Homo sapiens: one gene and its partners. The protein of the gene in region 1 interacts with the protein of each later gene in a pairwise test. Each region holds a gene or a part of one and is shown in the gene's direction. Other genes may lie near its edges.

The links.
Region 2: the proteins of TMEM237 (region 1) and CDS1 interact in binary tests that used the Homo sapiens proteins (3 or more experiments, as listed by UniProt).
Region 3: the proteins of TMEM237 (region 1) and TMEM254 interact in binary tests that used the Homo sapiens proteins (3 or more experiments, as listed by UniProt).
Region 4: the proteins of TMEM237 (region 1) and RUSF1 interact in binary tests that used the Homo sapiens proteins (3 or more experiments, as listed by UniProt).
Region 5: the proteins of TMEM237 (region 1) and FXYD6 interact in binary tests that used the Homo sapiens proteins (3 or more experiments, as listed by UniProt).
Region 6: the proteins of TMEM237 (region 1) and ATP13A1 interact in binary tests that used the Homo sapiens proteins (3 or more experiments, as listed by UniProt).
Region 7: the proteins of TMEM237 (region 1) and SLC12A7 interact in binary tests that used the Homo sapiens proteins (3 or more experiments, as listed by UniProt).

Annotation. Positions count from the first base shown.
Region 1 is NC_000002.12:201,632,867-201,637,248, reverse strand, and holds part of TMEM237 (transmembrane protein 237), read left to right. Parts: intron 1-363; coding exon 364-501; intron 502-3,817; coding exon 3,818-3,938; intron 3,939-4,382. UniProt on the Homo sapiens protein: Component of the transition zone in primary cilia. Required for ciliogenesis.
Region 2 is NC_000004.12:84,585,775-84,590,156, forward strand, and holds part of CDS1 (phosphatidate cytidylyltransferase 1), read left to right. Parts: intron 1-4,382. UniProt on the Homo sapiens protein: Catalyzes the conversion of phosphatidic acid (PA) to CDP-diacylglycerol (CDP-DAG), an essential intermediate in the synthesis of phosphatidylglycerol, cardiolipin and phosphatidylinositol.
Region 3 is NC_000010.11:80,088,291-80,091,365, forward strand, and holds part of TMEM254 (transmembrane protein 254), read left to right. Parts: intron 1-2,089; coding exon of another isoform or gene 2,090-2,122; exon of another isoform or gene 2,123-2,141; intron 2,142-2,506; coding exon 2,507-2,627; 3' UTR 2,628-3,075.
Region 4 is NC_000016.10:31,497,923-31,502,304, reverse strand, and holds part of RUSF1 (RUS family member 1), read left to right. Parts: intron 1-1,573; coding exon 1,574-1,619; intron 1,620-2,779; coding exon 2,780-2,812; intron 2,813-2,897; coding exon 2,898-3,003; intron 3,004-4,382.
Region 5 is NC_000011.10:117,866,400-117,870,781, reverse strand, and holds part of FXYD6 (FXYD domain-containing ion transport regulator 6 precursor), read left to right. Parts: intron 1-4,382. UniProt on the Homo sapiens protein: Associates with and regulates the activity of the sodium/potassium-transporting ATPase (NKA) which catalyzes the hydrolysis of ATP coupled with the exchange of Na(+) and K(+) ions across the plasma membrane.
Region 6 is NC_000019.10:19,646,446-19,650,827, reverse strand, and holds part of ATP13A1 (endoplasmic reticulum transmembrane helix translocase), read left to right. Parts: intron 1-887; coding exon 888-1,087; intron 1,088-1,164; coding exon 1,165-1,261; intron 1,262-3,068; coding exon 3,069-3,229; intron 3,230-3,299; coding exon 3,300-3,414; intron 3,415-3,502; coding exon 3,503-3,699; intron 3,700-4,382. UniProt on the Homo sapiens protein: Endoplasmic reticulum translocase required to remove mitochondrial transmembrane proteins mistargeted to the endoplasmic reticulum.
Region 7 is NC_000005.10:1,077,026-1,081,407, reverse strand, and holds part of SLC12A7 (solute carrier family 12 member 7), read left to right. Parts: intron 1-1,911; coding exon 1,912-2,010; intron 2,011-2,649; coding exon 2,650-2,707; intron 2,708-3,400; coding exon 3,401-3,575; intron 3,576-4,382. UniProt on the Homo sapiens protein: Mediates electroneutral potassium-chloride cotransport when activated by cell swelling. May mediate K(+) uptake into Deiters' cells in the cochlea and contribute to K(+) recycling in the inner ear.

The DNA of each region.
Region 1 (4,382 bases):
AAATTCTTAAGGCAAGAGGCAAGTAAGAGAATTCTCTATGGTATCAGTTTTTATTATGTTTTCCACCTTTTTCAAAGTTCTAAATGTTCTGAAGCAATTTCTCCTCCTCCTGTCTTTTGCTCTTCTTTTTAGCCCCCTCGTTTTTTCTTCCTCAGCCTTTCTTATTCCTTCATTTATTTCTTTTCCTAACTTAAAGCCCAAAGTTACAGGTGAGGAGGAAGGAAAGATTTGGGGGATAATTAGTTCTGAAAGAGATGGGGTTATTCTATAGGAAACATTCTAGTTACCTTTTCCTCCATCTTTTTAAGATTCAGTGATCTTTGCTCAAGTAATCTCATTTTTTTCTACTCTGTTTTTCTATAGCAAGTGCTTCTTTGGAAGGCCTTGCTCAGACTGCTGGTCGAAGGCCCTCTGAGGGCAATGAGCCATCAACTAAAGAACTCAAAGAGCACCCAGAGGCTCCTGTTCAAAGAAGACAGAAAAAGACAAGGCTACCTCTTGGTATGTGAAGAAACCAAGGTTAAGTTGTGATAGCACTTGTGATTTTGATGACATGATAAAAACCTCTCTGCTTTCATTTCTTTCCCCCTATCCATATCCCACAGGTGGTTTCTTGCTTTTATGTTTAAAATATTTACCACTAGAATAACTCCAATGGCTTAAGCCAAGAATACTTTACAGGTCTCTTTTGATCATATATGTATAGATTATGAGAGGAGGGCAACAAATACAGGACTAAACAGAAAGTTCAGATCTCAGTGCATAGAAAAATCTAGTAAATGATGAAATGGACATTTCAGATTAGTGGGGAAATGGTAGATTCTGTACTAACAATAATATAGTGAAACAACAGCTAACATTTGTTTAGTCTTTCTATGTCCCAGGCAGTTCACAAGGTAAATAAAATACTATACCATTTTTTGGCCTATCAAATTGGCAATGCTTTTTTCAAATTATAAAATCCAATATTGATGGGAAATGGGTGCACTCATGCTTTGCTCATAGGAGCATAGATACAGCCTGTCTGGATTTCTGGGAATAGTAGTAAATTCAATAGCTGCAGTAATTAAAGGATGTTAACTGCAGCGTTATTTATAAGAGTAGAAATTGGTAATGACCCAGATATTTAACGGTGTGATACTGGCTAAATAAATCATACTTCATCCATAAATAGGAACCAGGTACCCATTAAAAGGATTGTTAGGGTGACACAGATAATCATCAGTTGTGTATTATTAAATCAAAGAACAAAGGTTATAAAATAGTATGTATTGGAGGATCCCATTTTTGTAAAATATACTATGTTAATTTCTTAGGGTTGCCATAACAAATTACCACAAACTGTGTGACTTCAAACAACAGTTTATTTTTTCATAGTTCTTAGGTGAGAAGTCCAAAATCAAGTTGTCTGCAGGACTATGCTCCCTCTGAAGTCTCTAGAAAAGAATCCTTCCTTGTTTCTTCGAGCCTCTTTTTTTTTTTTTTTAAGATGGAGTTTCACTCTTATAGCCCAGGCTGGAGTGCAATGGTGCGATCTCAGCTCACTGGAACTTCTGCCTCCCGGGTACAAGCGATTCTCCTGCCTCGGCCTCCTGAGTAGCTGGGATTACAGGCATTTGCCATGATGCTCGGCTAATTTTGTATTTTTTAGTAGAGACAGGGTTTTGCCATGTTGGCCAGGCTTGTCTTGAACTCCTGACCTCAGGTGATCCGCCCACCTCGGCCTCCCAAAGTGCTGGGATTACAGGTGTGAGCCACCGCGCCTGGCCATTTCTTCTAGCTTCTTATGGTTGTTGACAGTCCTTGGCATTGTTTGACTTGTGGTGGCATAATGCCAATCTCTGCTTCCATCTTCACATTTTTCCTTGTGTGTCTGTGTCCACATTTCCCTCTTATAAGGATATCAGTTGTTGGATTTAGGGCCCATTCCAATCTAGCATGACCTCATCTTAACTTGATTTCATCTGCAAAGACTCTTGTTTCCAAATAAGGTTACACTCACAGGTATTATGAGTTAGGACTTGAACATATCTCTTTTTGGAGCACAGTTCAACCCAGAACGTAAATATGTACATACATCTACATAGTAAAAAGAATGGAAGAATATAGCAGTGTTACAGTGGTAGAAGTTTTAGAAGGAGGAAGTATGATTTTTAAAATTTTCTTCCTTCATTTATTTTACTAATTTTTTATATTTTGAGCATTATGACTTTTATAATAATTAGAAAAATGACAAAGAGTTGTATTGGAGCAAAACTCAGGGAAGGAACAAAGATGGGGAGATTAGTGCTCTCCTATTAACATCAGCCCTTATTAATAATTTATTATAATTTTCCTAATTACTTGTCCTTCTAGAAAACGGCGTGTCTTGATTGGATGGAAGAATTATAGGAGTAGAAGGGCAGGAACTAGAAAAGTCAGGAGAATGGAGCATAATTTTGGAAGGCAAGTTGAAGTGGGATGCCACAGTGCCTGGGGGCACTGAGGGTCTATGAGAACGAAGGGGCGGATGATGGCAGAAGAAGGAAAAGAGACAGAAATGGTGCTCAGACTAGCTTTAACTACTCTACAGTTTATTTCATTAGTGGCAGTAAATGTAGTTTCATTAAAAGTGCCCTTTTAGTAATTTAGTTAAGATACAAGTTTAAAAATCAAGATGGATACCAATACCTAGTTTTATAATTTGTGAAAAGTGTGTTTACAGAAATGACTTTTTTAGAAAATTCAGGACCCAACTAAGTTTTGAATCAAAAAGGACCTGTCATTGCCATTCCAAAGTACACCAAGCCTGGCAGGTTCACCTTTCTAAGTTTCTGGATTTAAAAATTGTGTTTTTATTTATTTTGTTCAGGATGACCAATGGTAGGCTCTACTGCTTGCATTATATTTCCAGTCGAGGCTGTAAGTATTTTATTACAATAGAATTGTAAGGTCTTGAAGGTATTCCAGGGAGCTAGTATTTCCAGGTAGGAAGAGTAGCTAGTGGATTAGAAGAAGGCTTCACTGACTCATTTAAACTTAATACCTACCCTGTGTGCAGAAAAGAGTTAATATAGCAGACCTGAGACTGCTATCCTTGGAAAAGCCTGCTGATAAGATTGGCCGTTAGCTGGCATCTGGGAACTTGGATGATAAACAGCTCCCTACACTGATAGAAAACTTTCCCTAAATTATAAGGTGACTCACGGTGCATTTGTGCACACATAGTGATTTTTGCTGAACATCTGTTTCCCTTCCGGGCATCCAGAATTTTGGTATGTGCTAGGCTTATGTGACTAGCCCCTAACCTTGGGCACTGTCTCTGATGAGCTTCTTTTGTACAACATGTGTCACATGTGTTGTCACAACTCATTACTCTCCAGTAATGTTAGTACATCCTATTTGACTCCACTGATAGAGGACTCTTGGAAGCTTGTACTTGGTTTCCTCTGGACTTGGTCCATGTACTTTTTCCTTTTGCTGATTTTGCTTTATATCCATTTGCTGTAGTAAACCATAATTGTGAGTGTGATGATTTCCAAGTCCTGTGAGCCCTTCTAGAAAGTCAGCGAACCAGGAGATAATCTTGGGAATCTTCAGCACAGCCTGGGTATTGGGTTACTTAATTTTTTTCCATATTGTTTGGCATTACAATTTCAATTTTTACATTGAGAGTTTAGAAGTATAACATTTTTAAAAAATTAAAAATTTGTAAGATAGTGAAAACATTTTTGCCCAATTAAAATTCTTGAAGTTCTTTTCTCTTATACAAGTCTTGTACATTACTTTTCTTTTTATGTTTTAGTTATTTGAAAAGTTAAATTTATTTTGTTTTCAGAATTGGAGACTTCCTCCACCCAAAAGAAGTCATCTAGTTCATCTTTATTACGAAATGAAAATGGTATTGATGCGGAGCCAGCTGAGGAGGCAGTTATTCAAAAACCTCGGAGGAAGACAAAGTAGGAATTTATTTATTCTTCTAACTATTCTCCAGGATTACCCTGATGCTTTGTTTGGAGCTCCGAAGCAGTAGCTTCTCATTAAGTCTTATTACATACTTGTATTTGTGTACCTCTAGGATAAGTATTATTACAAAAAATCAGTTAAACCAATCGAATGATAAATTTCAGAAGAGTAAACCACTGAGAAAATAAAAAAAATTAAGATTGTACTTAAATAAAAAAACTTAAGAGCCATCTCTAAAAAAGAAGAACACAAATAGAATATATAAGTAGCAAAATTAAACATTAAGGATATTTAAAAATTAAAGATAATGAAATAGGCTATTGTGATTTATTTTCTTATGTTAACAGAATTCAAATTATGATTATTTTAGGAATAAGTAAAACTGGGTTTTAGCATTAAGATAAAATGAGTAGTGTACTTTAAAGAAATAACACTGG
Region 2 (4,382 bases), on another chromosome or scaffold:
AATACTTCTTACCTGCAGAGGAATGTTCCCAAGTGTTAAATGTTGGAGTGGTACTTGAAAAATGACAAGGGACATCTTCAAGGAACCCTGCAGGAGACATATATGAGTTAGATTTATTGGAAGTCTGTACAAGGCTCATTGTTAGCATAGAGGGCATGCTTGGCGTCTACCTGGAGACTGTAGGAAAAGCTCTAAACAGTGGATGAGGATTGAGCTGGGAATGAAAAGATTCCTGGGACTCACCAGGTTTACAAGGGTTTGGGTAGGGTGTTCTAGGCAAAGGACGTGTTGGGTTTTTTCTTGAATCAGCATTCTAGGCACAGGGTTGCAGATACAGAGGAAGAGATAATGAAGGTCCTGAGAGCAAAAGGAGGAGGCATTGCTTAGAGCAGTGGTCCCCAAATTTTTTGGCACCAGGGATCAGTTTTGTGGAAGACACTTTTTTCCACGGATGGGTTGGGGGGATGGTTTCAGGATGATTCAGGTACATTACATTTATTGTGCACTTTATTTCTATTATTATTACATTGTAATATATAATGAAATAATTATACAACTCACCATAATATAAAATCCATGGGAGCCCTGAGCTTGTTATCCTGCAACTATACAGTCCCACCTGGGGGTGATGGGAGACAGTGACAGATCATCAGGCCTTAGATTCTCATAAGGAACATGCAGCCTAGATCCCTCGCATGTGCAGTTCACAACAGGGTTCAAGCTCCTGTGAGGATCTAATGCTGCTGTTGATCTGACAGGAGGCAGCGCTCGGTGGTAATGCGAGTGATGGGGTGTGGCTGTAAATACAGAGGAAGCTTCACTCGCAGACCACTCACCTGCTCTGCAGCCGGGTTCCCAACAGGCCCAGTTCCTAACAGGCCGGTACTGGTCTGTGGCCTGGGGGTTGGGGACCCCTGGCTTAGAGGACATCATCAGTAGTACTTAGGAATAAGGGCTGAGATAGAACGTGGAGTTTAGCAAAAGATCTAAGTAGAAGCAAGTTTAGGTTGAGGAAATTGAGAGGTGAAATGTTGGTAGTTATTGTTATAAAGTGGCAGTGAAAGGAATACAGGATGGCAACTAGAGAGACAGGAGGATTAATGAAGATTTTTCTTTTCAGAGGAGGGGAGATATATATTTGTATGAAAGTCAAATGAGTAAAGATGTTGAAGACAATGGGTAGGCCCTAGGAAAAAGAAAGCAAACATGGGGTAGAGACTATGGATTATTGGGATATCCAAGGAAAGAAAAGAGGGATGCATGTCTTTTCCTTAAGAAAAGAAAGACGGAATGAAGAGTGGATACAGGAACATTTTGAAAAGCAGAAAGGAGAAGATCAAATGTTGGATGCCTTCAGTTAGTAAAGTAGGAACTCAGAACCAATGAGCTTCAAGGGATCTTAGAAACAACTTGGTTTAACTCAATTCATATATATTTGTATTTGTATATATTTATATATAATTTGGTATATATACAATTAAATTTTAAACAATAAATTTGTATTCAGTTGAATCTTCACTGAGTTTAATAATTCTGTATAGTTTTATAATAGTTACCTTTTGGTCATTTCCTATCACACTTCCCAAAAATGACAGTTCAGATGTGTTCCAGTCACGTTCAGTGTTGTGTGACTGTGTGTTAGGAATATCCCCATTTAATAGCTGAGAATAAGAAAAGCAATGGGAGTGATTTAGGCCTGGGGAGTGCCAGAGGTCCAGGATGTAGGGAATTAGAGAGTCAGTGAAGCCAAGATTGAAGTGGATGACCACAGATTCAGGTCGGCAGGGAAGTGGGCTGGTGAAGATCTAATGGGTTGAGTGGGAATGAGTATTGAAACAGAAAGAGCTAAGACATGACTTATGTAGAGACCAAGGGAGAACTTCCCCTCTGCCCTCTGAAGACTTGCCAGAAAAAACTGACAACAGGTAGATTAATCGGAGAAATGGCATACAAGTTTATTAACGTGTGGGGTGGGAGGAGGGAGACAGAGTGATTACCTGAACCCCAAGAGGCTCAGAAGCTTATATACCATCTTGAGGCAAAGGTGGTCCTGTCATGTAGATGAAACCTCATAGGGAGGAGCCCTCAGAGAGAATAGATGGTGAATATTTCTTTCAGACCTTTAAAAGTGTCAGACTCTCAGTTAGTCTTTCCTAGATCCAGACAAGAGAGAACCTTCAGAGAAGGCCAGGTTGCATCAATGCAGATTTTCTCTACAGACACAAATCTACCTCACAAAAGACAGCTTTGCAGGGCTGTTTGTTTGCAGGCCCTCTGAACAGCCATCTCAAAATATGTCAAAGAAGTATAATTTGGGGTGAAATATTCTGATTTCCTTCACTTGCTAGACCCTGAAGTGGGAGAAAAGAGGGTGCACATTGAGGCTGTGGCCAGTCAAGGGGAGCACACGTGGAATAGTGTGCTTTCAGGTAAGATCCCTGTGTGTTTGTGCATGGGGCTGCTACTTAGGGATTTTGGTTTGTGAAGTTGAGGAGAAAACAATCCAGAGATCAGTTAACGTCTCTCCTCCATTTGAGATGTGTGCAGCTTCTTTCATAAATACATTATTATTTTCAAATAAACTTTTAATTTTGGAACAACTTTGATTTATGTAACCACCCCACAGGTTCTTCTTTCTTGCTGCCCAGATAGAACTGGTTTATCAACACGGGAGAATTGCAATAGAGAAAAAGAGTTTAATGCACACAGAGCCGGCTAAACAGGCGGCCAGGGTTTTATTATTACTCACATTAACCTCCCTAAAAATTTGGAGGCTAGACTTTTTAAAAGATAGTTTGGTGTGCAGGGGGTTAGAGAATGGGTGCTGCTGATTGGTTGGGGAGGCAATTGCAGGGGTATGGAAAATGGTCCTTGTATGCTGAGTCCATTTCTGGATGGGGGGGCCACAGGAGTTGCTGGTTTGGGAGGAGTTATCCAGTCATCAGAAATATAAAAATCTGAAAGTGGTCTATCTTTTAAAAGGCCAATCTTAGCTTCTTTAATAGTGATATTATGTGTAGAAGTAATTGGAGAAGTTGCAAATCTTGTGATCTCCAGACCAGTGGCTGGTAATTGTTTACATGTAATCACAACAAAATTCAGTCCCCTCTCATAATCCTAAACTTGTGACCTTTTATTAGTTTTATAAAGGCAGTTTAGTTTAGGGAAGAGCTGTTATCATTTAACCTGTAAACTAAATTCTTCCAAAGTTAGCTTGGTTCTCACTTGGGAATGACCATGGGCAGCTTGAAGGTTAAAGGCAAGATAGAGTTGGTTAGGTCAGATTTTTTTTCACTGTTATGATTTTCTCACTGTTACAGTTTTTGTAAAGGTGGTTGGTTTTATTTACAGAAGCATTACAAAGATTTCTATGTACTTTTCACCGACTTTCCCGTAAGGTTTGTATCTTGCATAACCGTGGTACATCGGTCAAAACTTAAGAAATTAACATAGCTATAATATCATTTTAGACTGTAGATACTATTCAGAAATTCACTGGTTGTTCCACTATCCATTTACTGCCCTGGGATACAATCCGAGATTCAACACTGCATTTAGTCTAGTTTATTTTGTTATTGTAAAAGCCTTATTGTGTTTTTGTAAATTACTTCTTCATTTTGGTACACTTCACTACAGGTTGTGCTGATGTCACCTGTAAGTGTAATGAACATTTTCTATAGTTTTTCATCTAGATCTAGGCCATTAATAAAATACTAATGTTTAGATCTAGATTTCTGGACTACCATTTGGGCTGATACTCCCTAATTGTTGATAAATTATCAGTCAGTATTACCACCTAAATAATTTTCCATGATTCAGCTTTTATCATGCACAGCATATTCATTTCATTTAATAACATTTTTTTAAAATGCTGGCTTCCAAAATATCGGCAACCCAGCCAGGTGGTAAGACAGAGCTGGGTTTTTAGCTTACTGCAGTGAGGAACACTTCCACAGAGCCTTGGTAGTATTTCAGAGGGGGAGAGGCAAGTTGTAACGTATTTGAGAATTGGAAGTTTGGTTTAAGGCAGGTCTTTTTTGTTTTGTTTTGTTTTGAGACGGAGTCTCACTCTGTTGCCCAGGCTGGAGTGCAGTGGCGCGACCTCGGCTCACTGCAAGCTCTGCCTCCCGGGTTCACGCCATTCTTCTGCCTCAGCCTCCGACGTAGCTGGGACTACAGGCACCCGCCACCACGCCTGGCTAATTTTTTTGTATTTTTAGTAGAGACGGGGTTTCACAGTGTTAGCCAGGACGATCTCAATCTCCTGACCTTGTGATCTGCCCGCCTTGGCCTCCCAAAGTGCTGGGATTACAGGCATGAGCCACCTCACCCAGCCTAAGGCAGGTCTTTCAATGTGGGGAATTGATTAGGATTGGGTAAGG
Region 3 (3,075 bases), on another chromosome or scaffold:
GTTCAATAGGATTGCCTTTGCCTACACCTTTGCATATTCTGTGCATTGTCTTGTGCCACAAAAACAAAAAATAAAGATGTTGAGATTTTCATTGGATTGACCATGTGAAATAATTTGGAGAATATTGGCATATTTCCATTATGTTTTTTTTCTTTTTTTTTTCCTTAAGGTCAGGAAAGCATCAAATATTTCTATTATTGAGTCTTCTAAATGATGAAATGATCTGTTTCCATTTATTTAGATCTCCTTTAATATATATATAATTTTTAAGAGGTTTTACACATTGTTGTTACATTAATTTCCAGCAACTTCTACTTTGAGATGTTATTATAAATGACTTTTTTTTAAAAAAAGATGGAGGGTCTCCAGGAGGCTGAGGCAGGAGAATGGCATGAACCCGGGAGGCCCCGGAGCTTGCAGTTAGCTGAGATCATGCCACTGCACTCCAGCCTGGGCGACAGAGCAAGACTCCGTCTCAAAAAAAAAAAAAAAAGATAGGGTATCATTATGTTGCCAAGGCTGATGTCAAACTCCTGGGCTCAAGCGATCCACCTGCGTCGGTCTCCCAAAGTGCTGGAATTACAGGCCTGAGCCACCACACCTGGCCAACTTTTGTTGTTGTTTTTGTTTTTGTTTTTTGAGATGGAGTCTAGCTCTGTCGCCCAGACTGGAGTTCAGTGGCATGATCTTGGCTCCCTTTGTTTCATTTCATTTTCTAATTGTCTGATGGTACTTTGTATGAATATAGTCAATTTTTTATATTGACCTTATACCCAGCAATCTTGCTAAATAAATTTATTAATTGTAACAGTTTATAGATTATTTTCAGTTTTTAGGTATAAAACTGTCCAGAAATACAGTTTTATTTCTTTCTTTCAATTCTGTATACCTTTTATTTATGTTTCTTCCCTTATTCTACTAGCTAGAACTTCCAGCAGTGCTGACTAGAAGTGTGCCTTGTTCTTGACCTCAAAGGAGAACTTTCAACATTTTGCATCATGTTTATTATAGAGTTTTGTAGATCTCCTGTGTCAAAATTAGGAAGTTCCATTGTATTTCTAACTTTGCTGAGAAGTTTTATTAAAAATGGATGTTGGATGTGGATGCAGGTGGCTCACACCTGTAATCCCAGCACTTCGGGAGGCTGAGGTGGGAGAATCAGTTGAAGCCAGGAGTTCAAGACCAGCCTGGGCAACAAAGCAAGACACTGTCTCTACAAAAAACAAACAAAAAACCTAGCCAGGCATGGTGGTGCGTGCCTGTGATGATCCCAGCTACTTGGGAAGCTAAGGTGGGAGGATAGCTTTAGCCCAGGAGTTTGAGGCTGCAGTGAGCTATAATTGTACCAGTACACTCCACTGTAGGTGACAGAGTGAGACCCCATCTCTGGGGGGGTTGGAAAAAGAATGGATGTTGAAATTTGTCAAATGCAGCCGGGCGTGGTGGCTCACGCCTGTAATACCAGCACTTTGGGAGGCCGAGGTGGGTGGATCACGAGGTCAAGAGATCGAGACCATCCTGGCTAACACAGTGAAACCCCATCTCTACTAAAGAAATACAAAAAATTAGCCAGGCGTGGTGGCGGGCTCCTGTAATCCCAGCTACTCGGGAGGCTGAGGCAGGAGAATGGCATCAACCCGGGAGGCAGAGCTTGCAGTGAGTCAAGATCGCGCCACTGCACTCCAGCCTGGGTGACAGAGCGAGACTCCATCTCAAAAAAAAAAAAAAAAAGAAATTTGTCAAATGCCACTTCTGCATTTATTAAGATATTCATATGATCTTTCTGTTTTAATCTGTTACTGTAGAAAATTATATTGCTTTTACATATATTGTTTTTAAAGTTTGTTTTAAATAAAAGTCATCCAAGTGAGACTTATTTATGTACAGATGAGACTGTAGCAAGCCATTCCCTTCCATTGGGTCATCTTTTTTTTGCACTTCATTTTAGGCAGTTGAATTTGAATGACAATATAAGCAGGTGTTTATCATGACTGTGTGCCAGGCTCCTTCCTGAGCATGTTGTGTGTATTATCCCATAAATCATCTCAACTGACTCAGTGAGATAGCTACTGCTGTTCCTGTTTTTCAGATGAGAAAACTGATTCTGAGAGATTCTGAGTGATTTGCCCAGGTCACAGCTGGTAGGTAGCCACGCTAGGATTTATATCTGGTCTATTTGCAAAACATTTGCTCTGAAACCATACCAGTGCTTTTTACTCCATCCGCTCATCAGAATCACATGAGAAACAGTCTTATAATACTGTGCCCTAGACAGTAGCCAGACTAGTTCTCAGGGAATAGTTTACCATCCAAAATACATTTGTTAGAAAACAAGAAAGATGAAAAATAAATGAACCATCCAAGATAAGCCAGAGAAAAGCAGCAAAATAAACCCAATGAAAGTAGTGGAAGGTATAATTTAAAAAATATATATATAGAAGACAATAACTCCCATGAAACTGTAAGATTAACATCTCGTGTTTAAATTTTGTTTTTTCTGTTTTAGGCATAAAGGCATCACAAGTGGTCGGGCTCAGCTACTCTGGTTCCTACAGACTTTCTTCTTTGGGATAGCGTCTCTCACCATCTTGATTGCTTACAAACGGAAGCGCCAAAAACAAACTTGAAGTTGTCTGAAAGCTTGCTCTACACTTTTACATTCATCCTCACCCTTTTTTTTGTGGGGTAGAGGAGGTGCAGTAATTTACTCAGTGATCTTTCTACTTTCTAGAAACTGTCCTTCAAAGCTCTTTAAGACCCCCTCGTTAGTCAGTTTTTTCTCTTATATGCTCTGGTTGAGCTTGAATAGACCAGTTGTTACTTAAGAAAGAAACAGAGAAAGATTTTAGCTTTTCAATCCTATTTGGCAGAGGACTTCAGCTACCTTCTTACAGTCTTTGGCTGTGTTGGTACCCTCGTGTGCTCTGAGCTAAGCCACATACTAAACTGACTTTTTGGTTTGTATACCCTTGCTCCCGCCTTCTGATGAAAACACCTTACCCTCACAACCACCATCTTTCCTCTCCTTTCCAAAGCTCTTTCCACCTTGCTGCACTAAGATAAAGTGACACTTCC
Region 4 (4,382 bases), on another chromosome or scaffold:
CTGCTCTCAGTGGAGAATGGGAGGGCTGGCCCGTGTCATTGCATTTATGTTTCGTGGGAAGCTCCCAGCCCTCATTCCCATAACGTAGTGTCCTTTCTCCTACATCCCCACCTCAGGGTCAGTGCCCTCAAGCTCAGACAAGTCCAAATCCTCTCCCCATGGTATCTGTCCTCTCCCATGTCCACTGTATGAGTCCCTCCCAGGTGTCTCGTTCTAAAATATTTCTGCCAGGCTTAATGGGTGCTGCTCTCTGTATAATGGATGGTCCAGATTGACAAACTTTTTCTGTAAAGGGCCAGATCTTAATGCTTTGCAGGCTTTATAATCTTAGTTGCAGCAACTCAGTTCTGTCATTGTCTTGCAAAAACAGCTATAGACAATCTGTAAACAAATAGGCATGGCTGCATTCCAGTAATACTTTATTTCCAAAACCAGGGAGTAGAAACAGTTTAGTGATTCCTGGTCTAAATCAGTGTTTTCTATACTGATTGTTATCTGCTCTTTGGCTGGATTTTGACCCTGGGATCATCTTGGTCACTGTGGTCATGAAGTACCTGGCAGAGAGAGTTAGGTAGCCAGAAAGCATTTGTTGTGCAAACGAAGGTCCCACTGATTCCAGAGACTTCTCTTACTCTGCCCAGCCTAAGGAGGCCTGTCCCTCTGCCGTGCAACCCCAGCTGCAGTTCAAATCTTTTTTTTTTTTTTTTTCCTGAGACTGGGTCTTGCTCTGTCATCCAGGCTGGAGTGCAGTGACATGATCATAGCTCACTGCAGCATTGATCCTGAGTTCAAGCCATCCTTCCGCCTCAGCCTCCCAAGTAGCTGGGACTACAGGCATGCCACCATGCCTGGCTAATTTCTTTCCTACTTTTTGTAGAGATGGGGTCTTGCTGTGTTGCCCAGGCTGGTCTTGAACTCCTGGCCTCAAGCAGTCCCTGGGCCCAAACCCCCTGTAATCCCAAAGTGCTGGGATTATAGGCCTGAGCCACCATACCCAGCCTAAATCCTTTTATTTATTTATCCCATAATAGCCATCTGTGAGCCAACTGCCCAGCCTAAGAGCTAGAACAGGTTAGCAATAACCTTTGAATTTCCACTTAAGATTTCCTGCTTTTTTGAATAGTTTTACCAAATAGGTAAATATTCCTAAGTGCTATATTGTTTAGTTTTAATTTTAGAGCTTTGCAAACTGTGCTGTATGTGGTCTTCATGAGTTATTTTCATGCAAGAGTTTAATAGTATTCATCTATGAATGAATGCCTCTGGGTGAATATACTAGAATTTATGTATTCTGTCAGTCAACATTTGCATTATTCCCAGGTTTTTTGCTGTTATGAACAATTCTGCAAAGAACATTTCTTGTCCATGTCTCCTAGGGGACATATTGAGGAACTGCTATTTGTAGGCACTTCTGACCCCATTATGTAGCTATGACTATCCACAACTTCTAGTACCAGACCGAGTTCCCAAAGGCAGTGACTCAGTGAATTGGCCAGTTCAGTGCCAGGGTCTGCCAGGCCCCACAGCTCCCACACCTCTTCCTTGCTCCTTACCTGTGCCTTCTTTCCCCCAGATTCAACTGGCATGCTGGGCCGCATCGTCTTTGCCTGGTGGAAAGGGTGAGTTTGTCTTCCCGGCCAGCAACTCTGGCAACTCTTCCCAGTAGTGGTAGTAATGATAGTAATAGTATTGCCATTAATTGTGGCTGTAAGGGTTCCATGAGATGATCTATGCAAAGTGCTTAATGCCCGTGGCATCGTACATAATGGCTCAGTAAACACTAGCTACCATTAACAGCTGTAACTGTGCCCCCTGAGCCTCTGTATGTTGTCTCTAATCCTTACAGCAACTCTGTAGGATGGGATTGGATGTGTACATTTCATAAATGTGAAATATACCTGCATGAGGGAAGTTACCTGCCCAAACCACACAGCTTATAACTAGCGAGATGGGATTTGAACCTGAAGCCTGTGCTTTCCATGGTATTGGGCAGTTCACTGGGCAGAACCCTCAACCAGGCCATGTGTTCAGGATCTCGTTATGTGTGTCTGATACCTCTCCCAAGAATATTCCCATTCCCTCCAGGAGATCTCATACTGAGACTCGGGCCTAATGCTGCAAATCCTGAGCTGGGCTGGGGCTGCAGTATCTCCTGCCACTGGGACCCTAGAGAAGTTGTTTCCAAGTGTTTGTGCACAGGGCAGGGAGTCACTGTCTGACGAAAAGGGCAGGTGAGGTAGCCGTCCACGGTGTTGTGTAACAGAAGTACCCTAGGCCTGGATGTCGGAGCCCGGCTCTCTTAGCCTTTTCCCCAACTCTGCGTGTGATCCAGGGAAATCATATCCCCTGTGAGGGCTAGTTGTCTGTAACATGCAGGGTTACACACTCAATGTGATGTTTACTAGTCCAAAACATGCTCACTGGGTACCCTCACTCTAAAGCAAGAAGAAGAACGGAGAGAGGCAGAGGAACTCAGGAAGAGCCTCCCTCCAAGGACAGACAGAGGCTGGGGAGCAGCCACAAGACAATCAGGGTTTTTCCTTGGTAAATCATGAGTTCATAAGCGGGAGACACTAGGTGATCAGTCAGTCACTGAAGGTTCTCCCAGCTAATGGTGGCATTTTAGGTAGCAGTGACCGGCTGTGGGGACAGATGTCTGTCTGGGGGTGTGGGTTTTCCTGAGCTCTTCAGACTTTACTGTGGTCCAAGACTCCCCACACTGCCCATAGGATGTGTTTCTCCTTAAGTCCAAATTACAACAACCTCTCCTCCCCAACAGGAGCAAACTGGACTGCAATGCCAAGCAGTGGAGGTGAGGAGGGGCGGGGACGGGGGAGGGGAGTCTTCCATTATGAAAGTCTCCTACCTCTGACCTCTAACCTCTGATCCCTCCCCAGGCTTTTTGCGGACATCCTCAATGACGTAGCCATGTTCCTTGAGATTATGGCTCCTGTATACCCAATCTGTTTCACCATGACCGTCTCCACCAGCAACCTAGCCAAGGTAGCTGCCTGTGGGGGCACCCATCTGCCTAAAACACCTGCCTTGGTAGTGTGTGAGTTTACCTGGGCTCTGTGAGTTTACCTGCCACTTCAAGAAGAATAAGAAAGTTCAGATGTTTCTACTCGAACCCAACCATCCTTTCTGACCCTCCTCCAGCCAGACAGCATCTAGTGCCCCAGAAAGTGTAAGGCAATGTCTAGAGCCACAGGACTGGGGAGGGAGCTCCGAGCTGAGAACTAGAAGGGGTTGTCCAATGTTGACATTTTGGGACCAGCTTCCTTGACTTCCCTTTGGTTCTTTCAGTACAGTATTTATTGAGTGCCTACTGCATATTTGGCACAGAATGTGGGCCCCCGTCTTTGAAAGGAAACCACACATAATTGCACCAGTGTTTGTGGAATTATAGGTACAGGTATTCTAAATGAGAAATGTTGGGGCCTGCAAGAGGCTGAGGCGGGGATTCCAGCCTGGTCAGGGAGTGTAGGAAGAGCTCCCCTGAGCCTGGGTCCTGAAGATGGAGTTTAAGGTGCAGGGCGGGTGTTCCGGGCAAAAGAAACAGCACAGCTTAAGGTCTGGAGGCGAGGTGGAGATGGAGCACAGACCGCACAGTGAGCTGGGGGACACGCGGGGCTCAAGCACACTCTTCCTCCACGCCAAGCTGTTGCCTGCACAACCCTTGCAGGTTGATCTCACCCAAATGAGGACACTGAGGCCTGGCATGGTTCAGTAAAGAGCATATCCTGTCAGAGTTAAGTCCCTGGCCCAGAGGAGAAACTCAAGAAAATGGAAAACCCATTCCAAGGCCCATGTGTCAACTTAAAATCACGTTAGGGCCGTGTTTCTCCATAAGTACTAGCATTTGGGGTGCAACGGTTCCTTGTGGTAGAGGACATTTAGCTTCCTTGGTTGCAAGCCTAAATGCTACGAGCACCCCTAAACAGGGTAGGAAACCCCAGAGAAAAGCATGGCTGTAGCTATGGACCGAGGGTTGTGCCATCTGGCTTTTGCTTCAAACTCTGCCTTTGAGACTTCAGTCTCTTCATCTGTCCAACAAGGGAATGGAACAGGGCCATGAGCTTCCCTCTTAAGACCCCTCTCTAGAGTTCCCCTCTCCACAACCTCCATCTCCAGCTGCACCAAGAGAAGCCAGCCTGGCTGTCATCTATGCTGCCGCCACCACCACTGCCACCACCTCCTCCTCTTCCCCCTTCCCCTTATCTGTCACCTTCGGCTGAACCTTCAGTTCTGTTATTTTTCCCTCCTCAAAATCTCCAGTCCATTCTCTCCTCCATCTTCCTGTCACCACCTCTCACTGCTGAGAGAGCACCGTTGCTTCCCAGGTAGCCTCCGTGCCGCTCCTCTCTCAGAGCAGCCCAGTG
Region 5 (4,382 bases), on another chromosome or scaffold:
ATGAGGATGCATTGAGGGGAGGGAGGGGATAATGTGTTTCCTGAAACAGAGACAGAGTCAGGTCAACAGCCCCCTCCTCTAAAGGCAGGGCACATTTCTGGGTATCCAGGCCCGTGGGTCAGGGTTCATCTTCATGCCACTTCTACCCCTAAAAGGGAGACAATATGAAATTGTGCAAAGTGCCCTGTAGGCTGAAACATGCAGGCCAGAGCTGTCCTTCTAAAGAGGTAGGCAGAGAGAGCAAAGGGGGCTGCCTGGTGCTGTGGCCTGGCTGTGGGCAGGGTGGCGTGGGCCTGGCTTCTGGGTTCCTGGCCCTGGCAGCTGCTCTGGGTTTCTGTGTCTGCTGCTGGGACTGCTGTCTGTCCTGTCTTGAATGGGCCTTTGTCAGCAGGTGTGTGGGGGAGGTGATCCCATCCTGGCCTGACTCCATCACGCCCTGCTGGGGCGTGCAGCCTGCTGGGGCCCCAGCCTGTGGCTTCTGTGCAATACCACTCACCATTCAGACTCTCTGGAGCCAGACCGAGATCTCCTGGGGAACCAGAGGGGCCTCAGCCCCTGTGCTGGCAGGCAGGAGGCCTGAATCCCACTCTGACTCCCTCTGGGCAAGGCGCGGCATTGGCCTGTGCCTGAGTTGGCCTCGCAGTACTGTTCTGTGTTTCTGCTTCTGAGGGCTGTTGTGAGAAGTCCATGGGTGATGGCTGGGATGCCACAGTGTCACGGTTGTCAGTGATGGTGAGGTGACAGCAAGACCTGGGAAGGGGGCTGGGGCCCCACGGACCAGGCTGGGGCCCAGAGAATGGGGCTGCCCCAGTTCAGAATATCTGATGTGGGCAGAGAGGGCCAAGGATGAGGGGATGTGATTGGAATGACAGTGACCCGCATGCAGCTGGAGGACAAAGCCAGGCCGGCACGCACTGAAAGACCAGAGGCTAAGATCTCTCCACCATGCCTCCGCTTATGGTCCAGCTTGGGATCTTTCCAGGGAGACTTCCAGAAAACAGGCCTGGATTTGTGATTTGTGAATTCTGTTTCTGTTTCTAAGGAAGAGGCCTTATTTCTTTTCACAGTCAGTTATTTTCTGTCTCTCTCTCTTCTTCTTCTTCTTCTTCTTTTTCCTCTGTCCAAGTTTCTCTTCCCTAGAAAGAACTTCATGTTTTCATGTTAAAGATAAAGGTGCCTCCAGGTTAAAAATAAGTCCCCTGCTATATGACAAGAGAGTTTTGCCTCTCCCGCTCCACCCTGTGCAGCCGGGCTGGGTTGGGTCTGGGCCGGTTGAGTCCAGGGTACCTGACGACTCAGCCTCCAGCACCCTCGCAGTGGGAGTGCCCCTCTTCCATGAATGAGGGTTGGAGGGGCAGCATTCGAGCCGTTGGGCTACTGAAGGCGCCTGACAGGAGAGGGAAAGGCCACCCTGGGAGGTGTCAGCCACAGTGATGCGCTGGGCGGAGGTGCCCTGTCCTGCTCCTAGACTGTCCAGCTGCCTTCCTGGCAGCTTGGGAAATTCAGCAGTGTCTGCAGCCTCCTTGAGCCATGGACTGCTGGAATTTCACCACCCTCTGCTCTGTCCTTTCCCTTGCCAGTCTCTGAGTCCAGTCTCCTCCTCGACTCCTCTCTGGAACATTGCTGGCTGGGCGGGGCGGGCAATCATTTCAAGTTAGGTGATTTAACAATAATTGATGCTTAATTGTTTATTTGATGGGCATTTAAAATGCAAATTGAGGGAACTGGTTGCATTTTCCACTGATGGATCTGTGGCCTCTGGTCGACCCAAAGCACTTGTTTTAAAAGGCAGCTTTAAAAGCCCTTGATGGTTGTTTGTTTGCTCTGAGGCTCTGAACCAGAGAAGCCCAGCTCCTGTTACAGATTCATCAAATGCCGGAAAGGTGAGCAGGAGCCGGAGTGCTGGGATGGGGTTGAGGATTGCTTTTAACTGAATTTTTGAATTTTTATTATTTTTCTACGAATAGACTATCTTTTTAGAACAGTTAGATTTACAGAAAACTTGGGCAGATTGTATGAGTTCCAATTTTCTCCCCTGGCATGCAGTTTCTGCTATTATTACGATCTTACATTAGGGTGGTACATTTGTTACAATTAATGAACAAATATTGGTACAATAATATTGACTAACATTGACACTTTATTAAAATGTCGTTCGTTTGTACCTTATGTCCTTTTTCTGTTCTAGGATCCCATCCAGGATACCACACTCCATTGAGTCGTGCCTCTTTTGGTGCCTCTGGGTGGTGACCTTTTCTCAGGCTTCCCAGGACTTTGACAGTTCTGAGGGTCACTGGTCAGGTGTATTGTAGGATGTGGCCCTGTTGGGATTTGTTCGATGTTCTCCTCATGATTAGACTGGAGTGATGGGTTTTAGGGAGGAAGATCACAGAGGGAAAGTGCCATTTTCATCACATCACACCAAGACGATACAATCAGGATGATTCATTGCTGTTGACGTTGATGGGACTGGGTTTTCCATCCCTTTCATGCCCCCCACGCAGCACAGTTTCAAGGCCTGGTGATTGGAGCTGTGTTCTCTCCGCTCCTCGAGACAAACATACCAAACCATCAGCCAGCACTTTCGGCCGTCCTCACCATCCCAGGTGAGGACAGATCATGGGGTAGCACAGAGACTTTTCCGATAGGAGAATCTTAATGAAGCGAGCATGAAACAGAATGTGCTATGCGCCAAATTAGTGCCAACGACAGGCGACAGGCGCTCTTGGAGTCTGGAGAAAGGGGTCTACGTGGAGTGGCAGCTGGACAAAGATAGCATTTATTAACCTTGGCTGCACATCAGAATGAGTGGGGGAGATTCTCAAAATTACCGATACCTTGGCTACACTGCCCTTGGCTACACTGCCCGGGTTTAGAGCTGAATGTGGCTGAGTTGATTTCCAGGCATCTTTTTTCTTTTCTTTCTTTCTTTCTTTTTTTTTTCTGAAGCTCTTCATGTGATCCTAAGGTACAACCAGGGTTGAGAACTGGAATAAACAAAGAAGGGAAGGGCATTGTAAGTAGAAGGAACAGAATATACAAAGGCACGCAGTTAGAGACACATGTGGCAGAAGATGGAACGTAGACCATCTTAGCTGAAAGTAATGAGAAGATACTGGAGGGGTAGAAGAGAGGTACACTTAGAGATTTTCATATGCCAGAAAGAAGTTTGGATTTTAAAAAACTAAATAGGACGTAGAGGCACCACCGAATGCCTTTGAGTTTGGGAGGGAGGTATTCAGAATACACTTTAGAAAGGTTAGTCCTGCAGTAATCAGTGTCCAGCACAGAGGGGAAGGAGGAGGTTAAAGATGGGTCCAGCTACTGCACTATTAGGTAAGTTACCCAGAGGAGTGACGGAAAGGAAGTTCCAATTAGAGAGATACTGCAAGTGCGAGCATGGCTAGGACTTTGCCACAGATGCAGTGTGGAGATGGGGAAGGAGAGAGGAAGCCCCGGAAACTTGGTGAGGCCGTAACCTCCGTCAGGCAGGGAGGCAGGGATTGTGTCTGTCTTGCTCACTGCAGTGTCCTCAGTGATGAGTGAAGTGCTGGAAAGCATTAGGCCATCAATAAATATTTGTTAACTTGGTTACTGGAAGGATAAGGGTGCCATTGTTTCCAAAATTACACCTTGTTCCAAAAGTACGCTCTTTCTCCCCCAATTTCTCCACCTAAATGCAGGCAAATTTCTCTGCTGTGGAAAGCAATCTGATTAAATAACTCAGGCCAAGATATAAATGACTGTTAGGATTGGGAGTATTTCTCTTGTAGTGATGCCGTGACATTTAAACGTCTCTCCTTGGGAAGAATTGTTGTGGAGGCAGATACATTTTTGAGTAGGGGTGGCCTTTATTTCGATTCTACACCCTCATCTAATTCTGAGCCATACCAGAAAAAAAGGTGATCTGCAGCTCTGCAGCCCACGGTGAAAGGCTGCCGGCTAGTAGTTCTGTTGGCACCCACCCTGAGCTGAGCTCCAGTGGACAGGATAGCCTACAACTGGTCTGGGACTCCATCCAGTACTCAGCATAAATGCACTGGTATTCTGCTAGGCAAAGTGCAGCGGGGCACTCAGCAGCTGTGAGATGGACAGAGGCTGAGAGGGACACAGGAGTGCCTGTGCTGATGCCAAAGCTCAGCTGGGACTGATGGGGCATCGCTGGGAACAGCTGGGATCTGACAATGGGTAACAGACATGCCACAACCTCTCCTATTAACAGGCCCCAGGGTCCCAGCTTTACCCCAACCTCAGTCATAGTCAGCAGAACAGAGTTGGGCAAGAAAATGTGAAAGGCGGAAAAAGGGGATAATGCATGCCAAAGTCTGAAAAGCTGTATTTTGGGTTATTCTTCCTTGGCCTGGGTAAGAACACCCTCATCA
Region 6 (4,382 bases), on another chromosome or scaffold:
GCCCTAAGAAGAACCACATGGAGCAGTGTTGCCACAGGGCTGCTGGCAGCAAACATTCACAGGTCTGGGCCAGAGCAGCTTCCGGAACCTCCAGGCCACCTCTCAGAGGACTCGGTCCCTGCCCTCCCTCTGTTCTATTGGTCGCAGGCCTCCCCCTGTCCCAGCCCCAGCTACCGGGGTCTTCCAGGGCCTGGGGATTGTGGGCAGGTGGCATGGAGCGGATGAGCAGAACTGTTGATTGACAAGCGAAGCTGGTCTAGCAACAGCTGCAGCACAAGCCAGGTGGAAGTGTGCTGCCCTTCAGCTTGAGATGGTCCAGGGTGAGCAGGCAGTGCCAGGAGGGCTGGCGGGCCGCCCTTGGCCATCCTCAGCGCCCAGCATCCAAGCCAGGGCCAGCCAGCAAGAAAGGGGAAGTGGAGCAAGAAGATGTTGAGAACTCAGGGGCCCTGTCAGAGTTGGGAGGGGGCCCAGCCCCGAGAAAACAGGATTTCAGAGAGGCCACGGGCGCAGGGATAAATGAGGTGAGGGCCTGGTGTGGGGTTTCCCAAGGAGAGCGCAATAGCCCCCTTCTGTGTGTTTCAGGTTAGGGGGCCTTGCATGAGGTGGGGGCATGGCTTAGCTGGGGTCAGACTGCCCAGGTTCTAATCTGGCTGTGTCCCGGGCTCTCAGGCAAGTAGCTCAGGCCCCAGGCTCTTGGTTCCACCCTGTGCACCTGAGGGACATTCTTTGTGGAGTCCCCAGAGAAGGGCTGGGGGTCACCTGGGTGGGTAGGGAGGTGCGGGCTCCAGAGAGGAGAGACTGGCTGGTGCTGGGGTCCGAGTGGAGGGAGGGTGCTTCTGAGCCCGGTCAGCCAAGCCCCCAGCCCTAACCCTAGGTGCTGCCCGCAGGCCGGCAGTGCGAGTGGCGCTCCATTGACGGCAGCATCGTGCTGCCCCTGGCCCGGGGCTCCCCAAAGGCACTGGCCCTGGAGTACGCACTGTGCCTCACAGGCGACGGCTTGGCCCACCTGCAGGCCACCGACCCCCAGCAGCTGCTCCGCCTCATCCCCCATGTGCAGGTGTTCGCCCGTGTGGCTCCCAAGCAGAAGGTATGTGCACAGCCCTAGGGGTCAGGGGCACAGCGGTAGGCACGCAGCCCCTGCTCAGCCTGTCTCCGCCCATACAGGAGTTTGTCATCACCAGCCTGAAGGAGCTGGGCTACGTGACCCTCATGTGTGGGGATGGCACCAACGACGTGGGCGCCCTGAAGCATGCTGACGTGGGTGAGTGCTGTGGGCTAGGGTATTTCGTTTGTGGACGAGGTGTTGAGGACATGTCACTGAGCTAGAAAGACAGACCTGGCCCTTGGTGACAGCCACGGGGGCACTAATTCCTGTGAGGATGGGAGGGGGTGGCAAGGTCAGGGGCTTTGAGGGCAGGAAGGGATGCGAATATCCCAGGAACAGAGCAGGGCGGAGGCCAGAGGCCAGGAGAGAGGCAACAAGTTGGGAGAGTGACTCAGAAAACCCAGAGCTGAAGCCATGAAGATGGTTCATAGCCCCAGATCTCTGTCAAAAGCACACAGATGGCTGAGCACTGTGGCTCCTGCCTGGAATCCCAGTGCTTTGGGAGGCTGAGGCGGGAGGATCACTTGAGTCTGGGAGTTCAAGGCAGTGGTGTGATCCACTCTAACCTAAGTGACAGTGCAAGACCCTGTCTTTTTTTTTTTTGACGGAGCCTTGCTCTGTCACCCAGGCTGGAGTACAATGGCACGATCTGGGCTCACTGCAACCTCCATCTCCCGGGTTCAAGCGATTCTCCTGCCTCAGCCTCCCAAATAGCTGGGATTACAGGCACGTGCCACCATGCCTGGCTAATTTTTGTATTTTTAGTAGAGATGGGGTTTCACCATGTTGGCCAGGATGGTCTCCAATTCCTGACCTCAAGTGATCCACCCGCCTTGGCCTCCCAAAGTGCTAGGATTACAGGTGTGAACCACTGCATCCCACCGAACCCTGCCTTTTTTTTTTTTTTTTTTTTTTGAGACAGTTTCTCTCTTGTTGCCCAGGCTGGAGTGCAATAGCACGGTCTCAGCTCACTGCAACCTCTACTTCCCGGGTTCAAGCAATTCTCCTTCTTCAGCCTCCCAAGTAGCTAGGATTACAGGCGCCAGCCACCATGCCCATCTAATTTTTGTATTTTTAGTAGAGATGGGGTTTCACCATGTTGGCCAGGCTGGTCTCCAACTCCTGACTTCAGATGATGCGCCTGTGTTGGCCTCCCAAAGTGCTGGGATTACAGGTGTGAGCCACCTCACCTGGCCTTTTTTTCTTTTTTCTTTTTTTTTTTTTGCAAGAACTCAGGTGTTAAATTGAATTTTAAAGATCAATCTTACGTTGGTTTTTTTGCTTTTCCAATATTTATCTGCTTTTATCTACTAAAGCATTTATTGAGTGTTGTTTGCCTCCTAGAATCATGCTCCTTGGCTATTTCTTTTGAAATCAGTTTAGGTTGTTTTGTTTTGTTTTATTTTGAGACTGTCTCGCTCTGTCGCCCAGGCTGGAGTGCGGTGGTGTGATCTCATCTCACTGCAACCTCCGCCTCCCGGGTTCAAGCGATTCTCCTGCCTCAGCCTCCCGAGTAGCTGGAATTACAGGCACATGCCACCACCCCTGGCTAATTTTTGTATTTTTAGTAGAGACGGGGTTTCGCCGTATCAGCCAGGCTGGTCTCAAACTCCTGACCTCAGGTGATCCGCCCACCTCAGCCTTCCAAAGTGCTGAGATAACAGGTGTGAGCCACTGCGCTCGGCCAAAATCAGTTTAGTTTTGACCTATCTCGTGTTGTGTGTTTTTTCATTGCATTTGTTGTGGGGGTTTATTGTTGGTGGTTTGTTTTCTTAAAGTAGTTTGTAGAAAGCAACACGGGCACTCTCTGAGGTCTCCTTAGGGTGTCAGGTGAAATGGGGAAGTCTGGGAACTGTCCTCACGGGAGCCAGCTGGGGGACTTCAGGACCAGTGGCTCTGAAGCCAGCAATCTTCCCCTCCGTGGAGCCTGCTCCTCCGGGTCTGACACCCTCCTGCCCCCCAGGTGTGGCGCTCTTGGCCAATGCCCCTGAGCGGGTTGTCGAGCGGCGACGGCGGCCCCGGGACAGCCCAACCCTGAGCAACAGTGGCATCAGAGCCACCTCCAGGACAGCCAAGCAGCGGTCGGGGCTCCCTCCCTCCGAGGAGCAGCCAACCTCCCAGAGGGTGAGTCCCAAGAGGGGAGGTGCTGCACCCCATCCTGGCCAGGGCTGACAGCCTGCTGTCTACCCTGCAGGACCGCCTGAGCCAGGTGCTGCGAGACCTCGAGGACGAGAGTACGCCCATTGTGAAACTGGGGGATGCCAGCATCGCAGCACCCTTCACCTCCAAGCTCTCATCCATCCAGTGCAGTGAGTTGCCTGCCCCCGCTCCCCCTCCCTTCATTCCCCCCTTGGCACCCCTACCCACACCCACACCTGCCTCCCCACCACCCTGCAGTCTGCCACGTGATCAAGCAGGGCCGCTGCACGCTGGTGACCACGCTACAGATGTTCAAGATCCTGGCGCTCAATGCCCTCATCCTGGCCTACAGCCAGAGCGTCCTCTACCTGGAGGGAGTCAAGTTCAGTGACTTCCAGGCCACCCTACAGGGGCTGCTGCTGGCCGGCTGCTTCCTCTTCATCTCCCGTTCCAAGGTGGGCCCCAGAGGTGCTGGAAGGCCAGGGATGCATGGGCCTGCCAGGGCCAGGCTGATATAGGCACGGGAATTGTCATCCCCAAGTTACAGGACCCAGGGCCCCAGAGATGGGGGCTGTAGCTGGGATGGCTCAGGAAATGCTGGCAGGGCAGGTGTGGACTGAGGCTCCCAGACCCCTCCAGGTGGTACAGCTTGGCGTCCACACCTGTCCACAGGTAGGGGTCCCAGGGGTGGGCCCCACAGAGCCCCACAAGCAAGGAACAATCATCAAGAGGGTAAAAAAACAACTAAGTGGGTCATAGGCTACACAGGACAGGCTGGTGGACAGCTGGGGAGGCCTGTGCGACACCGACACTCAGGCCAAGGCGTAAAGAACCAGGGGGGCCAGCGGCCAGGAACTGGACACAAAGGCCCCAAACAGGCATGGGCTGACGCAGGGAGTCCCCGGTGGCTGGAGGGGGTGGGAGATTGGCTGGGCGGGACTGTGCCTGTCCCGTGGGCTCCAGGGAGGGCAGGATCTGCTTCATGATTCTCAGGCCCCTGTGGCTGCCATGGGGAGCCTGGATGGCGGAGCCGGGGCCAGGGAGGCAGCCCTGGGCTCAGGGGTGAGAGGCAGGCAGGGATCCAGGGACTGGTGCTGACCCATGGAATCCCCCAGGATTTGGTGGTGGCTGTACACAA
Region 7 (4,382 bases), on another chromosome or scaffold:
GGGACCCCAGGCACCCAGTACCACGCCCGGCTAATATCTGTATTTTTTGTAGAGGGGGGCAGCCGGGACCCCAGGCACACGGTACCACGCCCGGTTAATGTCTGTATTTTTTGTAGACGGGGGTCTCCCCACGTTGCTCAGGCTGGTCTCAAACTCCTGAGCTCAAGCCATCCTCAGCCTCCCAAAGTGCTGGGATTACAGACGTCTTGAGCCACCACGCCTGGCTTCCTTCTTTCTCTTCCTTTGTCTTTGTCCATTTCTCTGTCTCTGTCATTCTCTCCTCCGGCACTCTTTCTCTCTCCCCCTACCCTTTTCCCTCTCTCTCTGTCTGTCTCTCTCTCTCTCTCTGTCTCCCTCTTCTTCCCTCCCTCCCTCTCTCTCTCTCTGTCTGTCTGTCTGTCTCTCTCTCTGTCTCTCTCTCTGTAGTGTGTTCCTTCCTGCCCCTGCTTATCTTGCCTGTTTGGCTCAGGGGAAGTGGCTGAGGTCTCTGCCCTGCGTCCTGATGGATTTGTGAGAAGCCTGTCTGCTGCTCTCCCAGGCAGCCCTGTGTCAGGAGAAGCTGTTGTAGGGTTGCTGGGAACACCTGGCAGGCTGTTAGGAGACACCTAGGAGTGGCCTCAGTGTGAGCTCAGAGGCCGGGGACCTCGGCCCTCTGTGTCCTCCTCAAACAGTGGGCCTTGTTCCGGCGGTGGGTGGGGCCCTTGGTTGTTCCCCAGGGGGTGGGGCCAGGCCCCGTGCTCTTCGAGTCGCACACACACGCCCCCGGCTGTCTCCACTCGGCCTTCTTGTCGGGACGCCCCTGACAGGCGCTGGCTGCTTGTGCAGCCTGCAGCTGCCCTTCTGGTCCCTTCTGGTCCCTCCCACGTCTGCTCCCGGACTTCATCTCAGCACATCCGAAAGCCCTGGAGCCCAGGGTCAGCTGCAGGGCCTGGCCACAGCGCTGGCTTCTCGTGTTTCCCTTGCCTCCACTGAAGGTGGGCCCGTCTTGCTATGGAGGGGGTGATCTGCCGGGGGTCCTCTCCCTGTACCTCCGCTCCAGCCTCCCCCGTCCGTCTGAGTGCGCTCCGCGCCGTGGGTGGAGGGCGTGGGGGCAGAGCCTCTGCGTGGCTCCTGGTGTCTCCGCGCCGTGGGTGGAGGGCGTGGGGGCAGAGCCTCTGCGTGGCTCCTGGTGTCTCCGCGCCGCGGGTGGAGGGCGTGGGGGTAGAGCCTCTGCGTGGCTCCGGGTGTCTCTGAGCCGCGGGTGGAGGGCGTGGGGGCAGAGCCTCTGCGTGGCTCCGGGTGTCTCCGCGGCACTGGATTGTGGGCTCTGCTGCCTCCCAGGCCACCCCGAGCAATGGGTGCTTCAGGCTGCGCCTTGGATGGGACCGAGCCAGGCGTGAAGTGGCCCCCACCGACCCGGCTTCCCAGAGCTTTGTAGGAGCCGATTGTGTGGAAACATCCCCGGCCGTGGCTCCCTAGAGCAAGGTGGTGCCACAGCGGGAGGGGTCGCAGCGTCTGCTGGCCTGGCTGGCTGGGCTGAGTCGTTCTAGGATCTCATTCCCAAAGTCCTTAGGTCCTGGGGGCCTGTGAGCCATTGCTCAGCACCGTCTCTGGGCTGACCCTTGGCCATGGGATTAACACAGGCTCCAGAGAAGCCCTGGGTGTGGGGGGCGTGGGGGTCAGTGACGGGGTCGGTTCTCGTCCTCGGATCCAGGGGAGCAGTAGACGTGGGTGCTCATCCGCGTGCCTGGGCCCGCATCCCCTCAGCCGCAGTATTGCAGCGTGGGCTGGCGGAGCTTGGACTGCAGCCTCGGCTGCAGCTCACGCTCGGGGTCTCCCCAGAGACCGCCTTTCCAGCTTTCTGGGCAGGGGCTGCCATCACATGGCACTGACTCCTCAGATGGGTCTTTGCAGCATTTTCCATGTTCACAGGTATCATGGCGGGTTCAAACCGGTCCGGGGACCTCAAGGATGCACAGAAGTCCATCCCCACGGGGACCATCCTGGCCATAGTGACGACGTCTTTCATCTGTATCCTTGGAGGGGTGCAGGCGAGGGTTCCAGCCTCTGCCTGGGGGGAGGCCCCCATGCCCTCCCCGGCTCAGCATCATACCCTCGGCCACCAGCATGTGACTTCCCAGGTTAGGCTGTGCTCTCACCACGTCATCCTCCCTGGGAGACGGGGCAAGGGCTGCTGTCAGGACCCTGGCTTCTTCACCACTGTGTGATGCGATCGTAGAGAAAACAGAAGCAGTCACCCTGCCGCGTGTGGACAGTGATGCGCAGCGGTGTGTGGGGTGTGCCGCCGGCAGGCTGGGCCCGCGGGGCCTCTGGCTTCTCAATCCCAAGGCTGCCTCTTTCCAGCCGAGCATTGTCCCCTCAGCATGGTCCCCTGCCAATCCCTGGCGGTCAAGCACCAGGCCAGGTGTGTGTCCACCACCCCAGGGCCCCGTTCTGTGGCGCTGGACAGAGCCCCAGGAGGGTGCGCTGAGGACACGGGGGACAGGACGTGCCCGGGATGGGATGGGATGCAGAACGGTCCCCGCCCACCTGGATCCTGCGGCCCGCTGGCCAGTGCATCTCCCCACCCACCCCACCCCACCCCACCCCACCCCCCGTACCTGAGGACCCTGCACCCACGGACCTGCCTTTCCTTGACGAGGGCTGTGGATCTCTCCTGCATTGTGCTGTTTGGGGCCTGCATTGAAGGCGTGGTCTTACGAGATAAGTACGTTTCCACCTGCAGTTTTCGTGCAAAGCCTGTAGTCTTCAAGGGTTTTCCTGAGGATGAATTCGGCTTTGAAATTACATCGCCCTAGGACTTCATGTCCGCGTGCAGAGCTGAAGGCGTCCTGGTCCCAGGGTTGGGATCCCTTGGTCTGATGTGTCGTCTCTTCCGCTGGAGCCTAGGGCCTGGGGAACCGTTCAGAGCCAACTCCAAGCCCTGATGCGGCTGGGGGCGCAGGCCCTTCCTGGGGAGGCCACAGGGGTGTGGACGGGTGAGGCTTGGCCCTGGGAGATCCCTCAGCCCTGCTGGCAAGTGGAGAAGTAGTGGGGTCCCAGGCAGGTCATCACTGACCCTGCATCCTCATGGGGTGTGCGTGTCTGGCAGCCCCAAGGCCCCGGGGGTCCTGGGTGGTCCCTGACTGAAGCTGATGCCAGGCTGGGTCTTCCCTGCTCCCAAGAGCGACCCTGAGGTGAGCAGGACCCCCTCCCCCGCTGAAGACCCTCCAGAGCATTCTGGCCATGCTGGGCAGAGCCTGGTGGAGGTTTCAGCCAACGGGGACTGGAGGCCGGGCCTCAGCTTTCCAAGGAGTCGCCCCCACTGCACTGGGCCCCTCGCTCTGGGTGGGAGAAGACATTTTGTCTGACTCAGGCTCACTTCTGAAAGCCGCCCGCCCGCCTGCCCGCCTGCCTGCAGGTTCGGGGAGGCCCTGCAGGGGAACCTGGTCATCGGCATGCTGGCCTGGCCCTCCCCCTGGGTCATCGTCATCGGCTCCTTCTTCTCCACCTGCGGTGCCGGCCTGCAGAGCCTCACGGGGGCACCGCGCCTACTGCAGGCCATTGCCCGTGACGGCATCGTCCCCTTCCTGCAGGTGAGTCCCGCACCCTCGTCGGGGGGACCCTGGAAGGTCAGGGTCGGGGGCTCTCCTCCCCTGCGGGATCCTCACAGTGCCGTGTGTGGGACGCATGCCCGCGGCTTGGACCCCATGGTGGTCATTCTGCCCCTGGCCACTGCACAGAGCATGGGAGTGGTGGGAGGTGGGTGGTGGGCAGAGGCAATTCTAGCCCTCCTGCCTGCAGGTCCCTCCGAGCTCGGCCCCGGGTGTGTCAGGAGCGGCTGTGAGGGCCCACAGCCACGTGTCCAGAGGTGCCTGGTCTGTTGTCTGGTCAGAAGCCCTCTGCCTGCCTGCCACATCTTTCTCTGTGTGGCTGAGCTCTTCAGCCCGTGGGAGGTGGCGTCACCAGCCACCTGCAGCCAGTGTGTGTGGCTGCTCTGAGGATTGCACGGACGCCCGCATGGGTCCTGTCCGTGTGCTGTGCCCAGAGCTGCCGATTGTGGCTCCTCCTGCTACCTGGGCCCAGGGGCAGCTGTGGGAAGGTCGTGGATGGCAGAGCCATCCTTGCCCGTCGCTGGTCCCTCGGCAGGGTGCCGACCCGCAGGGCCTTTGTGTGGTTGCATCTTCAGTCCCAGCCGGGCCTAGGGCATGGTGTCCAGGAAGGGGACAGGCACACAGGCCCCGTGGGCCTCAGCTTCTGGGAGGTGAGGGTGGCCTGATGAGAAAGGTCACCACAGGGTCTGGGGAACCGCGAGTGCCCTGGAGACGCTGGTCCTGTGTTGTGTGGTCGGGGAAACTGAGGCGGGGGGGCAGGCTGGGGCCACACAGGTTGCAGGCAAGCCG